2 separate regions of the Homo sapiens genome follow, and region 2 is linked to region 1. Evidence: fine-mapped QTL for protein levels in blood plasma. A gene starts in region 1. The other region holds a variant in brackets. All regions are shown on one strand. Distances are from middle to middle.

Region 1 (8,328 bases):
ACACAACACAAAACAGACTAAGAATTCTAATTCCAGGAACCTATAATAAGAAAATAAATAATGATGTTAACATTGATTTATGTTTAAGGTGGTTCTTTGCTGCATTATTTATGAGAGTAAAAATTCTATAAAGAACTAAATATCCAATGGTAAAATTAGTCCTATGAATTATTTTGTGTCATACAAGGAATTAAGTCTCTGATAGTAGAAGATGTTTAATAACATTAAAATTTTTCACAAATAAATGTTAAGTACAAAAAGCATGTTAAAAAGTATATGTATATTTTTACAGCACTAATCTCTGTGGATTTCAACTTTCTTTTTTGTTGTTTTCTGTGTTTCCTAAAACCTATGTAAGTAATATGTATTTCATTATCTTACAATATAATACATACTTTGTAGGAAACACAGACTTTTTCTTCTGTGTGTGAGTATCTGCAAGGTCTTGTGAACATATAGAAAATACTAAAACAAGTGCTCAAAAAGTATATACTTAAGCATCAATTAATATAATAAACAATTGTGGAAATATAGATCCTTCTCATATACTTGTAGTGTGTGTAGTATAGTGTGATATATAGCTAAGAGTATTACCCTTACTGGGCAAAACTTTGGTTGCCTTATTCATGTGAAATAACAAAAATAATAAATTAGAATTTCTGAATATATAAAATTATATTTTGATCAGTATTCTTTCCAATAAGCCCAATATGAGATTTGTTACAAAAATGAGACTATATGAGAAACTCATAGCCAAACCTATGGCCCAAAGTAATAAAAAATATAAAATGATATAAACATAGGACAGTGATACTTTAAGCCACAAAGTAAAACTGTACATTCATTTTGATGTGTTTTACTGAGATTGCTATTTCTTTGATGAGAAATAAAAGTTGCTAAGTTTTAAAAAGCAATATACTATAAAAGAAATACTATAAAAATATTGTATTAACTTCACCTTCAGAAATTGTGTAATATCTTCATTATCGTAGCACCCAATTCCTAGAATATTACAATCTACAAAAATAAGATATGAAAATATGTGTGAGAATCTTACATTCTAAGCATATTTGTTTATAGGTACAATTCATTTATAACCCTGTCTTGTAGTTTACAATTATTATCTCAAGATGAAAAAAATCACAATGACCCCTTTATCTTATGACAGTAGTAGATTAAACTTAGGACTAATGAATTCTCTCCTACAGTGGTTATACTGTTTATTACTGGTTTCAAATCATAGTAAATATTAAATGTGGTAACAATTATCCTGAGTTCAAATGTGAAAAGTCTAAGGAAGGCAAGAGACACTAGGTCTGTTGTAAAATCATTTTTAAAGTGTTTTGGATTCAGAAAAAAGCAACGTGAAGGGACCAAAAAAATCATAAACTATAATATATACTAGTATGTGTTAAATATACTAGTAAGGAAACTGATCCACAGAAAGCTTAACCAGGGTCATAAATGGCATTGTATATTAAGAACAAAGAGAGACTTAGTAGAATAAAAGCTTAGTTCAGGAGTCTGTAGCTTTGTTACCATAACAAAGTCAAATGATATTTTTTAATCTTGGTAAATTAGTCAATGTTACTTAGCCTCAGTTTCCACATCCATAAAATAGGATCAAATTCACTATTAACCAACCAGTTATCTTTAGTTCTCTGCAATAAAAAGTATTGTGGATGAGGGAAGAGTAAAGATAGACTTCCTATATGTAATTTTGTATTTGTTAAATCAAAGTATTACTTTTACAGTTAAAAATTAGAACAGTAATTTTTAAAGTTATTGTGAAGATTAAATAAACTGGATAAAAAAAGTTAGTTATAAATTCTACTTTTTCATTTTAAAAATGTAGTGCACATATGGAAATATCTAGAAACTTGATGCCATTTGGGAAAAAATGGATAATTAACTGGCAAATTTCTTCTTAGTCTGAAAAATTCTTTATTGAACAATCAACATACACCTTTTCTTGTTTGAGAGGAGAACTTGTTTGATGAAGAATAGAAATGTGTGAACATTTAATGACACAATTGAAATCTTTCTGGTCACAGCCAGGAAATTAAACTATAGCCCTGAGCAAATATTATCAATCATCATCATCATCTGGAATATCCTTTATCTCCAGCTACTGAGATTATCTGTTGAGAGGCAAGGCAACTGAAGGAGTTCACTTGAGCTCAAATAGACAGCGTGGAACCCTTTTAAGAAAAATTCATGCCTAAGAAATATTCCCCTAAGGTATTAGAAATGTTTAGATCACATATAAATCCCTTATATTTTTATTCTCCACCAATAAATTTATTGTTTAACTTGAATAGTTAGGCTTTGAAGTTGTAGGTGTGGTTTTCTAGACCGTTTTATGTCTCTAAAATATATTTATTATGAAAATATTATGATAGCTATTATAGAGGGTCCATTTCAATAGACTTACATGTGTACCTCTATATTTTGCTTGCAAGTTTGTATTGGAGATCTTCATATAGGCGGTATAATCTTAATCTTTTCTTCTCAGGTTTAGTTGCTCATCTGAGAACTACCACACTTTTTTCTTAGAGTGCAGAGATAAGAAATTATTTGAAGAGGATATAATTTAAAAAATTTTGTAAGATACCTAAATAGGAGAATCCTAACTGTAAATTTTCTATTGTGATTGGTGTGTTAAGAGGAAAGAAGAAATAAGGGATGAGAGAAAGATACAGAATTTAAAGGGTGAAGAGGAGAATGAAATCTGAATACAAACTGTAGGTTATCTAAATTCATTTAAATCAACTTAAATATGTTCTTGGAGTCTCTTCACATAAAGATAATATTCTGTAAGTTGAAAAAAAATGTAACCTTTTAAGGTTAAAAATGTGGGTTTTAGATGATTGTCCTTTCTAAACAGCCAGCATTTTTCTGTTTTCCTTGAGTCTTGCCTAACCCTATTAATCACAGACACCATAAGGCTGATTTCCTTTCTCAGAGTGGTTTCTTGGGCCAAGATATTTTAGACCTGAGTCCTATTTAAGAAGAAACAGAAAAATGATTTCCTTCAGTTGAACTCCTCCACATCTGCAGTTCTCAACTGCATAGCATTTCTTTAGCATAATGGTTTCAAATTGATTAAGGTCTTTTTTTTTCACTCTCTACATGTGGTAATGGGTCAAATTAAATGAGAACAGAGTTATTTCAGAAGTGTATCAGGATGTCTAAAAAAGATCTCTCTAGTGTACACACGTGCACACACACAAACACACACATGCATGCACATACACACACACACTGAAATGTCTTCATCCCCACCTCCCTTCACTGAATTTCACCAGAGGAATACAACAAAAATATTTTGTCATATGAAAACATTGTATATAGATATGAAATTTTCTCCACCCACCTAGAAATTAGATTCTGACCCAGAAAAAAAAATCTTGTAAACATCTTTAAGACCTTCCCTAGCCTTGGGAATTTTCCCAACCCCAGTCCTTTCCCCCAAATTTTTACTCCCCATCTTTCTCAAAATACACACTTCCTTGAACATTTGCTCTTTTGCACAAAATATTAGCAAGCTCGTTGCAGCTGTCCAACTTGCAAAAGACCTAATTAAAAAGGCAAGTGGTGTAAACATATCCTCTCTGCATAGAGTGAAGAAAGGGCCAAACAGTAACTCTATTTAAAAGACCTAAAAATTTCAAATCCTAAAATGATCTATAAATATTTTAGGACGTATTGATGTGAAAAGGTGTCGACTCTGAAAGGAAAAGTCAGCAAAAGAGGCTTCACGGAAGCAGCATGTTCACGTTTTCTTCCATCCCAGAAGGTGATATTACTGGATTTTTATAAGCTCAGAGTTTGGAATCTGTTGTTTCCTTAACTGGAAAAAGCCTGAGCTTCGTGTTTCCCCAGCATCAGTGACCCAACAAGCATCTGCGCGAAGAGGAGCTGCCGGCTACCTGCAGAGAGCGTTCTCGCTGAGCTTTAGAGTCCAGAGATTTCTATCTCCTCCTCTCAAAATGCAACTGGTTATTTACTTGTAAACATTTAAATTAGTTCAAACTGATGTGAAAACTTTGTCAGTGGGGTGTGTGTGTGTGTGTGCGTGCGTGTAGTGTGCGCGCGCCTGCCTGCCAGTGGGTTTTTAACAGCACTCACAAATCATCTTGGGATTTTTCCCTGCCCCCTCTCCCTTCTTTTCCGGTTCTCAGTTAAAGCTTTCGGGACTGGAATCAAGGACTTCAGCATGCATTGTGTTTCACCCTCCAGAGTTAAATAACATTCAAGAAATATCAAAGAACCTAACTCTCAATGACCAAATTGACTAAATTTCTGCAAGTTTTAAAAAGTATATGCCTAATTTATATACCTTGCAAAAAAATTCATACTCAATTATGATATTATGTAACATATATGTTCCGAAAGCCACTTTGAACATACCAAAAGAAATGTTTCAAAGACATCAAATAGCGTAAAACACTGTGCCGCAGAGAAGGAAGAAATGCATTTAAAGAACCGATGAAAATGGCGTGCAGTATAATTACCTCAAATTGCTGTTCGCTTGACACCCTGACACTAATTTTATTCAAGCCATTGGGAAATAAATGTTTTAAAAGCACTCCTTTCCGAATGGTGGAGCTGGTGGGGGCTGTGAACTCGTTAAGGAAAGGAAAGGGTAAAGTTTCCAGCACGCAAAAATAATCAAATAATCCATTTAAAATAAGCATCTATGTAGATCGTCAGCCTTTTATGCCCACATTTTTAACGCTTGCCCTGTACGTGGATTGATTTTTTTTTCTTTCAGCATTCCCTAGCCAGATGGATTTTTGCTACTGCAGATCAGCAGAGGGTGTCAGATCTTTCAGAGTGCACCAGGCTGGAACGAGCAGAGCTTCTTAGCAACTCTCTTCTCCGCCCCCCTCCCCTCATTCTCGCGCTCTCTTCCTCCCTCAGACAACTCGCCCCCCGCCCTCCGCCCCCCTCCACGTAATTCCGAAAGAGCAGAAGAAAGAGAAGGAGAACAGGAAAAGAAGAGCTAGTAAGCGAGAGCGAGAGCACAGAAAAGAAAAAAAAAAGCCTTAAGAGGACCGAAGGGGAGGAAAGGAAAAGGATGGACAACCACAAAACGCAGCGATTGCGGAAATTTTCCAGCGCCATTGGCTGGGCAGCGTGAGTCCTTCGGTCGGGCGTGATTTCAGCACCGGGGGAACTGGACAGCACCTCGGGGGGACTTCTGGGCAACCCGCAACCACAGCAAGAACTCCACCAGCAGCCTCAACAACAGAAGCCGCGGAAAACCCTGCTTTGTATCAGAGAGGCAAGGTCAGTCCGACGCACAGCCATGCACAGGCAGTGCGCCTGTACTACGCTGCAAACCCTCTGCTTGTTTCTCTAACATGCACTTGCTTCTAATTACTAGCATTGTTTCATTTCTGATCAGTGAAGATCAGTAGATGAGATTCTGTAAGGGTGTACTTTTAATTTATATGTATATATTTAACTTCTTTTTCTGTTATTTTTAAAGTGTTGTGGGGGAGTGGGGTTTTTTTCCTACTTTTTTTTTTTTTTTTTTTTCTTTGCTTGCCTTGCACTACGTGCCTGGATAGTTTGTGGATATAATTATTGACTGGCGTCTGGGCTATTGCAGTGCGGGGGGGTTAGGGAGGAAGGAATCCACCCCCACCCCCCCAAACCCTTTTCTTCTCCTTTCCTGGCTTCGGACATTGGAGCACTAAATGAACTTGAATTGTGTCTGTGGCGAGCAGGATGGTCGCTGTTACTTTGTGATGAGATCGGGGATGAATTGCTCGCTTTAAAAATGCTGCTTTGGATTCTGTTGCTGGAGACGTCTCTTTGTTTTGCCGCTGGAAACGTTACAGGGGACGTTTGCAAAGAGAAGATCTGTTCCTGCAATGAGATAGAAGGGGACCTACACGTAGACTGTGAAAAAAAGGGCTTCACAAGTCTGCAGCGTTTCACTGCCCCGACTTCCCAGTTTTACCATTTATTTCTGCATGGCAATTCCCTCACTCGACTTTTCCCTAATGAGTTCGCTAACTTTTATAATGCGGTTAGTTTGCACATGGAAAACAATGGCTTGCATGAAATCGTTCCGGGGGCTTTTCTGGGGCTGCAGCTGGTGAAAAGGCTGCACATCAACAACAACAAGATCAAGTCTTTTCGAAAGCAGACTTTTCTGGGGCTGGACGATCTGGAATATCTCCAGGCTGATTTTAATTTATTACGAGATATAGACCCGGGGGCCTTCCAGGACTTGAACAAGCTGGAGGTGCTCATTTTAAATGACAATCTCATCAGCACCCTACCTGCCAACGTGTTCCAGTATGTGCCCATCACCCACCTCGACCTCCGGGGTAACAGGCTGAAAACGCTGCCCTATGAGGAGGTCTTGGAGCAAATCCCTGGTATTGCGGAGATCCTGCTAGAGGATAACCCTTGGGACTGCACCTGTGATCTGCTCTCCCTGAAAGAATGGCTGGAAAACATTCCCAAGAATGCCCTGATCGGCCGAGTGGTCTGCGAAGCCCCCACCAGACTGCAGGGTAAAGACCTCAATGAAACCACCGAACAGGACTTGTGTCCTTTGAAAAACCGAGTGGATTCTAGTCTCCCGGCGCCCCCTGCCCAAGAAGAGACCTTTGCTCCTGGACCCCTGCCAACTCCTTTCAAGACAAATGGGCAAGAGGATCATGCCACACCAGGGTCTGCTCCAAACGGAGGTACAAAGATCCCAGGCAACTGGCAGATCAAAATCAGACCCACAGCAGCGATAGCGACGGGTAGCTCCAGGAACAAACCCTTAGCTAACAGTTTACCCTGCCCTGGGGGCTGCAGCTGCGACCACATCCCAGGGTCGGGTTTAAAGATGAACTGCAACAACAGGAACGTGAGCAGCTTGGCTGATTTGAAGCCCAAGCTCTCTAACGTGCAGGAGCTTTTCCTACGAGATAACAAGATCCACAGCATCCGAAAATCGCACTTTGTGGATTACAAGAACCTCATTCTGTTGGATCTGGGCAACAATAACATCGCTACTGTAGAGAACAACACTTTCAAGAACCTTTTGGACCTCAGGTGGCTATACATGGATAGCAATTACCTGGACACGCTGTCCCGGGAGAAATTCGCGGGGCTGCAAAACCTAGAGTACCTGAACGTGGAGTACAACGCTATCCAGCTCATCCTCCCGGGCACTTTCAATGCCATGCCCAAACTGAGGATCCTCATTCTCAACAACAACCTGCTGAGGTCCCTGCCTGTGGACGTGTTCGCTGGGGTCTCGCTCTCTAAACTCAGCCTGCACAACAATTACTTCATGTACCTCCCGGTGGCAGGGGTGCTGGACCAGTTAACCTCCATCATCCAGATAGACCTCCACGGAAACCCCTGGGAGTGCTCCTGCACAATTGTGCCTTTCAAGCAGTGGGCAGAACGCTTGGGTTCCGAAGTGCTGATGAGCGACCTCAAGTGTGAGACGCCGGTGAACTTCTTTAGAAAGGATTTCATGCTCCTCTCCAATGACGAGATCTGCCCTCAGCTGTACGCTAGGATCTCGCCCACGTTAACTTCGCACAGTAAAAACAGCACTGGGTTGGCGGAGACCGGGACGCACTCCAACTCCTACCTAGACACCAGCAGGGTGTCCATCTCGGTGTTGGTCCCGGGACTGCTGCTGGTGTTTGTCACCTCCGCCTTCACCGTGGTGGGCATGCTCGTGTTTATCCTGAGGAACCGAAAGCGGTCCAAGAGACGAGATGCCAACTCCTCCGCGTCCGAGATTAATTCCCTACAGACAGTCTGTGACTCTTCCTACTGGCACAATGGGCCTTACAACGCAGATGGGGCCCACAGAGTGTATGACTGTGGCTCTCACTCGCTCTCAGACTAAGACCCCAACCCCAATAGGGGAGGGCAGAGGGAAGGCGATACATCCTTCCCCACCGCAGGCACCCCGGGGGCTGGAGGGGCGTGTACCCAAATCCCCGCGCCATCAGCCTGGATGGGCATAAGTAGATAAATAACTGTGAGCTCGCACAACCGAAAGGGCCTGACCCCTTACTTAGCTCCCTCCTTGAAACAAAGAGCAGACTGTGGAGAGCTGGGAGAGCGCAGCCAGCTCGCTCTTTGCTGAGAGCCCCTTTTGACAGAAAGCCCAGCACGACCCTGCTGGAAGAACTGACAGTGCCCTCGCCCTCGGCCCCGGGGCCTGTGGGGTTGGATGCCGCGGTTCTATACATATATACATATATCCACATCTATATAGAGAGATAGATATCTATTTTTCCCCTGTGGATTAGCCCCGTGATGGCTCCCTGTTGGCTACGCAGGGATGGG
Region 2 (8,346 bases), 88 kb after region 1:
TCATTTATATAGGGCATTAACTTTTTGTTGGTTTTATCTTATTTGATATTATTAACACTTGACTTTAATTCAGGCTTTTAATTCAGAGTTCTAGACTAAGAGAATAAAAAGATAAAATAAAATATGAAATAAAGTTAAGCATGTATAAAAGTCCACTTTAAAACTATATTTATCAGTATAGTACACATGTCCTTTAATAAATTTTACCATTAATTTTAGCATTATTACATTTAAAGCTGAAAAATTATTTTCAGTTTTTATAGTTAATAAGAATTATTATTAATTAATTTTCATTGCCTAAAGGATCCTAAGTACATGTAATAGCCGATTTCTCCTCTTGTGTTCTCCTAGTTCCTCAATTTCAATAAGAATTTCATTGTTAGTAGCAGAATCTTATGGAAATAATGGTAAGAGCCATTATGAAATTTCTGTAAGGATATCTGAGTGAGTCATATTTAGTTGTATTTGCTGAAAATAAAATAAATTGACTTGAGTTTTAGTCATATCTAGGAAATGATGTTTGGGAAGATTAAGCATATAACAATTTACAGAACCTTATCTTCTAGTCAGACACCGTTCTAACCACTGTTTATTGTCATTTAATCCCTACAATGAGATTATGGGGCAGATATTTCTATTATTTATCTATATTTCACTGATGAGAAAATTGAACTACAGAAATGTTAAGCAACTTCCTAAAGCTCTGATGTAAGCCTGTGATGGAGCTGGAACTTGAATCCAAGCAGTCTGGTTCCATGATGTCCTTGATCCATCAAGGTTAAGCACAACAAGCTTTCCTGGTCTGCTTTTCTGAAATATGCTCTATCAGCGAGATATCTGAAGCACTTTATTCATGAAAGTTTCTTCTCTCATCTTAGTTTTAAAGTTCCTGTCAAATTTGGAAGGAAATTATGTGTCTCAGTATGGTATTTTACTGTGATTACTTCTGATTATAGTGGCATACCAAAAAACATTTTTTATTTTAGTGGCAGTTGAGCATTGCTCAATTTTAAAAAGTAACCAAATTAACCCAAATATTTTACAGTAAAATGGTATGTTTCACTTGAACAAAACAAAGCAAGCAAGACCAGGTTAATTTAAGCAAATTGTCACTAATGTCTCCATTGTCTTTAGAGTTTAGAGAAAGTAAAATTTATGACCTAAACTATTCTACTAATAGTCTTCATTATCCATTAGAAGACCAATGTCTTGATACATTTTAAGTTTATGATTTCTTTCTTTAATATTAAAAGTTAAACTTAAGTTAGACATTCTATTAGTAATATAACATTCTGACACTTAGATTAAGAACACTCATATGAGAGAATGTTCATTGTATTTCATTCTAAATGATGTTCTTGAAATTATCTACAGAATTTCTCATAATCTGGAATACTTCAGTAGGAAATAGGTTCAAATGTTCTATAGTAAATTTGTTCAAAATTCTGTATACATATATATGTTAAATATATGTATACATATACATATTTGAGAAAATCCAATTAGGCAGCAAATGACCTTTTACCACTTGAAAAATATTTAATTTAGAGATTTTTATTTACTAATTTTCCAACATAAAAAATAAATCCTAAAGGAAAGTCTACGTACTTATTTATTTTACATGTATTTCCCCATATAAGATGTCTAAAATAAGCTAGAGAATATTAAAACAAATCTGTAGCTGGTTACCTAAAATTTAACCAATCAAGGCAATATATAATTGACCTAGGTCCTTTTGTTACTTAGTAGGATATGCATGGAACTTTGCATCTTCAAGTAAAATGTCATGTGTAGCAAAGCATACTGTGTCACATGCTGCTAAAATATTTTCCTTTACCATAGTTTTGTAAATAGAATTTTTAAAAGTTGACAAAAAGCCAACTTCTAGCTTTCAGAGTTCTGCAGTATTTTTCAGAAAATAGTAAAAATAATAGCTAAGTCACTAAGGGACCTTTTCCATACAATGTTCTAAGGCAGAAATTCTGATAATAGAGAATTTTTGAAACAATCAATTTCAAGTCATTGGCTTAAGTGACCAGGGCACAGGTTAACTATATTGTGTTTAGAGAGTTTGTATGTCTCTCTATCCATGATAATCCAAATATTTGGTGAATCTAAATTTTAAAGAGCAGAACCTGGGAGACTAACATTAAATGACTTTTGCCTTCTTCATAACTTTGTCTAGGACAGATAGCACATATATATAGGCTCAATGCAGAAAGGTTTACTACATAAGATTTTGATTAGGTCACTGAAAAATTAGCTGTATTTTTGAAAATAATTTGTTGGGAGACTAAGCTTTCAATTTCTTATTAGAAAGGAGTATTTTCAATTAAGGTGATGAATGGTCAATATCTTTGTAATGTTTTCTCCTTGATTCCAGTTTTCCTTTTGATATATTCTGTTACCAGAGGAGAGTTAACTCATAAAAGACCTTTCCTTTAGGCTTCTGTTTGGCATACAGAGAAGTGAAGAACAGGGATAAATAGACAACGTAATAACAGTGACCAGCAGGAAGGTGTTGCAGTCAACAAGATTAAAACAAAACCTAATCTGCAAAGTGAATTGTTCAATTTCATCATTGAAAACTGTATATATATTTTTTAAACCTGAGGGGCTGAGGAGATTAGATGTATTGTACATTTAGAATGTTAAGTGAATGTAACTGTATTCATCCACATAGTGATTTCCCTTAGTAACATAAGAAATTGTACTTATACTTTAAAGTGGCTTTTGAAAGTAGAAGGAAACTAAATTAGATTTTAATTGAAATTGATACAGACAGGAGGCCAGGAAATGTGGGGTAGAAGAGTGCAGGGTCCCTGGTGAGGTCTCTGCTCTCAAGCTGGGGCCCACGGCCCTAAATGAGAATTTCACATCCCTGTTTTCCCACCCAAATATTGCTTTTGGCCTGCCCTGCCCCTCTATCCTGTGCCCATATAAACCCCAGACCTCAGCTGGCAGAGGGCCAAGAGGCTGAATGTCGAGTGGGGAAGAGGCAACTGAGTGTCAGAGACTGTGGATAGACTTGGCTTAATTTCAGATGGCATGACTTTGGAGAGGAGCCAACTGGAGATGGTTTGGCTTCAGGGGATGATTATCTTCCCACTTCATCCCCTTTCCAGCTCCTCATCCAACTGAGAGCCACCTTCATCACTCAATAAAACCTCCACATTCATCATCCCTCAAGTCCATCTGATTTGATTCTTCCTGGATGTCAGACAAGGACCAGGGTACCAAGAGGGCAGGGTGTAAAACGCTGTCACCCAGCTCACCACTGAGCTGGTGAACACTTAAGTCATTTGCATATGGCTACTGCTAAAAGAGCATTAGTTCTAACACACCCCTAGACACTACCATGGGGCCAGAGCCCAAAAGCGCTTGCCCCGGCCCCGGCACCCACTCATCTGTGTGCTGTCCCTCCTGCAAAGTGTTTGAGCATAATGGTGGAGTAAGCCATCCACATCCCTGTTGCAAAAAAGCAAAGGGGTTCAGGGAACTCTCCCATCTCAAAACGGCACACAATTATCTCATGGAGAACATTCTGGGAAGAAAGTGATGGAATCCCTGTAGACTTCAAAAGCTGTGAAAAAATATGCATCCATATGCAAAGTCAAAATTTCATGTTAATGTGAATTTCTTCATGTGGCCCACTACATGAAAGGAATCCTGTTCATCAAAGTCTTCACTACATGTTCAACAAATAACTGTTGTTTTCTGTATTTGTGATTGCTTATACTCTGACATGAGTGAAATTTTAAAGTAGCAATTATATTTGAATTATGTTTGTACTCTTGAAAAAATCATGAACTAAAATTTCTATTTATCTCAAGTTTTTTTTGATGTTATAACTATAGTTATTTTTAACAGAAACCCACTTTGTACTAAAAACTCAAGACAGTGATGTACCAACTGAGATACTTAGCTTGGGGTGAAAAGAGTTAGACCTGCTTAAACATACCAGCTATGGAATATAATTGCATGTCCACATTTGTTACTGATAATTAAAATTTTTAACTGGAGATTTAAAAAATGACAATTGGCTTGAAACATACATAAAAGTTTTGTACTTGGGCTGATAAAGGAATACATTTATTTGTCACCACATGTTTAACTTTAGAAAGCATTAAACATGGTAAGTATTATAGCATTAGAGAGACTTTTCAAAGAGAGCTCCATAGAAAAGACTTTTGCTATATTTCTTTAAAAAATATAGCACACTAAATAACTTGTCAATATGTTTTCCTGGCTTAAATCTTTATTCTGTTCTAGAAAAATAATTCCAAACAGAATCTTCTCATTCTGTCTGACAATAAATGTGTGTGTATGTGTGTGTGTGTGTGTGTGTGTGTATGTAAAACTTTAGGATATTACTAATACTTTATTGCATAAAAATATTGAAATTTAAATTCCATATCCAGTTGTTATAAAAAATGTCAATGCTCCCTTAGATCTTGATTTTCCTAAACATTTTATCATCAGTTTTAAGTGTAAATGTCCTAGAAAATAATTCATTTCCATGATTAGTTTAATTGCACTTATATTTATATATAACAACATAGAGGAAAATACGCGCATGGCTTTTATCTGTTTGAAAATGGTTAATTTTTCTAACACTGATGTATGTCAAGATACTGAAATGACAGCTTCTCTTCTTGAACCTTAACTATGATGCAGCTCATTACATTAGCACCAAGAAAGCAGGCCATAAATTTCCACAGTGTGTTCAGGCATGTCTGTAGGCTTGACATTGCCTTCCTCATAGAATATCCATCATTCCAGAAATGTCCTGGGTGCTGAAGGGACAGACTGCAAAGAAATTAAATTCCCAAAATAGCAACACAGAATTTCTCACTGTTAAAATCAGTAAATGAT[A/T]CTGTTGTAATCAGTTGGATTTCTGCCTCATCATTAAACTGAAGTAATTTCCTGCTTATGTCAGAAAGAATTTCATGCTTTAAAAACTATGGAGAGTTTACTATGTTTACTTAGTTTATGAAAATGGGAAAAAATGAACAGCAGAGTAAAATTAATAGAAAATCTAAAACATGAACAGAAATATATTTTTTACTTCATGCATTTTAGGAAATAATAAACTTTAATGAACTAAATGTAAGCAAGCACTTTCAGGACTGAAAATATATTATTTCTAAAGAATATGCTTGGAGTGATGAACAGTCAAGACACTTTTTGTTGCAATACTTATACCATGTAATGGAACTACAGATAATGTTTAAGGCATAGAGGGGAAAGAACATATTGAAAGGTACAAATTACCACTTTTTTTCCTGCCTAAGAATGTTAAGTTCTTTGAGGAAATGAATGCGAAATAGAAACTGACTATTTAAATGCAAAGCCCATTTAATATTAATTAAGGATGGAAAGAATATTCTGTCACACATTCATCGATTTCAGCCAGCATCAATACAAAGTCTCATTGTTGGGGATGTAAAATGAACATGATATCATGGAATTTCAGATCCTGTATATTTTTGGGGAGTTGCGGGGGGGGAATGCAGAAAAAAAATGGACTGGAAAATCTGTCTCTTATTTTAATATTCAATTTACTGATTTTCTTAAAATGAGAAACATAACTTTGGGTAGATATCAGATACTTTTAAAACCTCTGATTCAATATTTTTTAAGTAAAACATTGATCATGCTACTTTTTCTGTAATTAAGATAGAAAAAAATCAATGTATTTCTTCAATTGACAATAACTATATTATATAACATTAAGTGTTGTGTTCATATTTCAAAAAATGTGACCCCAAAAAATCAGATGCTAAGGTAAAGGAAAAGGTAAACCAATTCCTGTGGATTAGCAGTTCTGGTAGACAGAATAGTAGACCCTTCAAAAGGTACAACGTTCTTGCCCTGAAAATTTGTGAATGTTACCCAATGTGGTAAAAGGAATTTTGCTGATATAATTAATGTCATGGACCTTAAAATAGGGAAAGGTGACCTGAATTATCCAGGTGTCACTGATCTAATCACCCAATCTAATCTAATCTAATCAGCCTCTAAAAGCAGATAATTTTGGGAAGGCGAGGCTGGTGGATCATGAGGTCAGGAGTTCAAGACCAGCCTGGCCAAGATGGTGAAACCCCATCTCTAATAAAAATACAAAAATTAGCCCGGTGCAGTGGCAGGTGCCTGTAATCCCAGCCACTCAGGAGGCTGAGGCAGGAGAATTGCTTGAACCCGGGGGGTGGAGGTTGCAGTGAGCCAAGATCACGCCACTGCCCAGCCTGGGCAACAGAGTGAGACTCCATCTCAAAAAAAGAAAAAAAAAAAAACAAAAAACAAGCAGAGTATTGTCTACAGCTAGTTGAAGAACAAGATGGCATAAAGAGGCAGCAAAAGGGAAGTTGGAGAGATTCAAAGTCTGAGAGGGAATCCACTTGCTGTTGCTGGAGACCATGGGTGAGAAGGGCCGTTACTAAGAGTGTCGCAGGCACCTCAAAGCATGAGAAGAAATACCCCTAACCTCTAGGAGGGAAGATTAACCCTCACATCTGAGAGGCAGCAAAGAAATGAAAACCTCAGTTACAGAAACTGAATTCTTCCAAACAACCAGAGTGAATTTGGAAACTGGTTAATTCCCCAGAGCCTCCAGAAAGGGTGAGCAAAGCTTCACTGACACTGATTTTGGCTCTCTGAGACCCAGTGCAAAAAACCAGCAGAATTTCATTCCTATTTCTGACCTACAGAAGTTAGATAATAATAGTGTGTTGTTTTAGGCCAAAAAAAAAAACAACAAAAAAAAAACAACTATGGTAATATGTTAAAGTGGTATAGAAATCACTATCAAAGAATTGTTTCCTCTTAAGTCATAAAAGTTAAATGAAAGAAAAGTATATTCACAAACATATGTCATTAAATTAATTGTTAATCCAAGCGTGCACACAATATGTTTTTATATCCTTCTAGATGTGTAATTGGGGTAATATACAATATTCAAAACTGCATATCAGAAAACAGTGAAGCTGCCTAGTGTTCAATTTGTTGTGTGGATCCATTCAAAGTGCCTAATGTAGAAAACTTAAAAGTAGAGTCAGATTTTATTAGAAACTGTTCCCTCCAGGACAAGCTCATATACAAATCTGCTTGAAGTTGGTGCTATTAGCAGTGGAGCTCCTCAATTGACCTGACTTTTGTAAAAATTTTATTTTCTTGCCTCTTTCCAGCTAGTGATTTTAGCAGTAATAAGCAGTAAAAATTTACAGGGAAGCTGTACAATGAATGCTTGACCTCAGCTATGATTGCAAACATATCCTCTTATATAGGTAAACATATTGACTTGGGACAACTCAAATTCATTTAGGGCAATGCCTGTGACAACAGAAAATACAAACCATTATTAAAATTTCTGATTCCATGTTATCCTGGGCCACATAATGAAATCCCATCTCTTAAAAAAAATTAGCTGTATGTGGTGGCATATGACTATAGTCCCAGCTACTCAGGAGTCTGAGGTGGGAGGATGGTTTGAGCCTGGAAGGTTGAGGCTGTAGTGACCGGTGATTGTGTCACTGCACTCTAGCCTGGGTAACAGAGTGAGACCCTGTCTCAAAAAACAGAACAAAACAAAAAAATTGCTGACTCTATTTCTTGGGAACTCCCCGGTGATTCACTACTCATTATTTATGTGTGCCTAGATATCTTTTCTCTGCCCAAATGGTAGATAAATCCTAATTTAAAAACTCTCATAGTATTTCCACAGAAATTAAAGTGAGTGTCTTGATGGAAATTTAATAGATATTGATATATTTTTATAGCATCATTGTATATTTCATATCATAAAATATAATTTGCAATTTAAAATTAAAAAAACAGAGGGACAAATATTAGGGGCAAATAACCAAATTAAAGCATGTTTTAATTTAGGATTAATGCTGTTATTTTAATTGTTAAGGGGAAGAATGCAGACGTTTTCTATGAATCATTAATATCTAAAACACTCAATCAACTATTATTTAAGTCTTTAGGGAGTGCTTAAAATATAACAGAAAGTAATTTAGAGTGTTCTGCCCTCTATATGTAAGATTTAAAAGAAATACTCCTTTGTTAGGTTATATTTGAGTGATTTTTAAATTTATTTAATTATATTATAAGCAGCAATTTGTAAGTAGGAAAAGAAAATATTGTTTTAAAGTACTCTTTACTCATCTAAAAGCCCAAGCAAGAATTAATAAACTGCTGCCATTTCTGGATATATATAAAAGCAGAAATCTTTCTCCATCTGCCTCATTGCTTATCACAAGTGTCTTTCTTTTTTGTGTTTCAGAATATTGCTAAGAGCACACAATCTTGCCATTGCAATTTCAAACTCATTTTCTTTTTCAC

Direction of the effects. Positions count from the first base shown, and alleles are read on the strand shown. Strength reflects both the effect of a copy and how common the allele is.
As copies of T replace A in region 2, the plasma level of the protein whose gene starts at base 4,825 in region 1 goes up (moderate association).

Evidence for each region. PIP is the chance, under the fine-mapping model, that this variant and not a neighbour inherited with it causes the effect. Protein levels are from antibody-based Olink assays in UK Biobank. Linkage for the fine-mapping came from a reference panel and not from the study's own genotypes, which makes the PIPs less certain.
Region 2: its variant is fine-mapped to the plasma level of the SLITRK1 protein (UK Biobank, PIP above 0.99).

The regions. Positions count from the first base shown.
Region 1 is chr13:83,878,971-83,887,298 of GRCh38, reverse strand. SLITRK1 (SLIT and NTRK like family member 1) reads left to right here and starts at 4,825. Exons shown (of 2, transcript NM_001281503.2): 1 at 4,825-5,295; 2 at 5,739-8,328. The coding sequence starts at 5,792. The coding sequence ends at 7,882.
Region 2 is chr13:83,791,180-83,799,525 of GRCh38, reverse strand. All of the region lies in intron 3 of LOC105370286 (a long non-coding RNA gene), which reads left to right. Among named protein-coding and RNA genes, the nearest start is that of SLITRK1, 87 kb to the left of the region's middle. The variant A/T (reference allele first, on the strand shown) is at 4,876.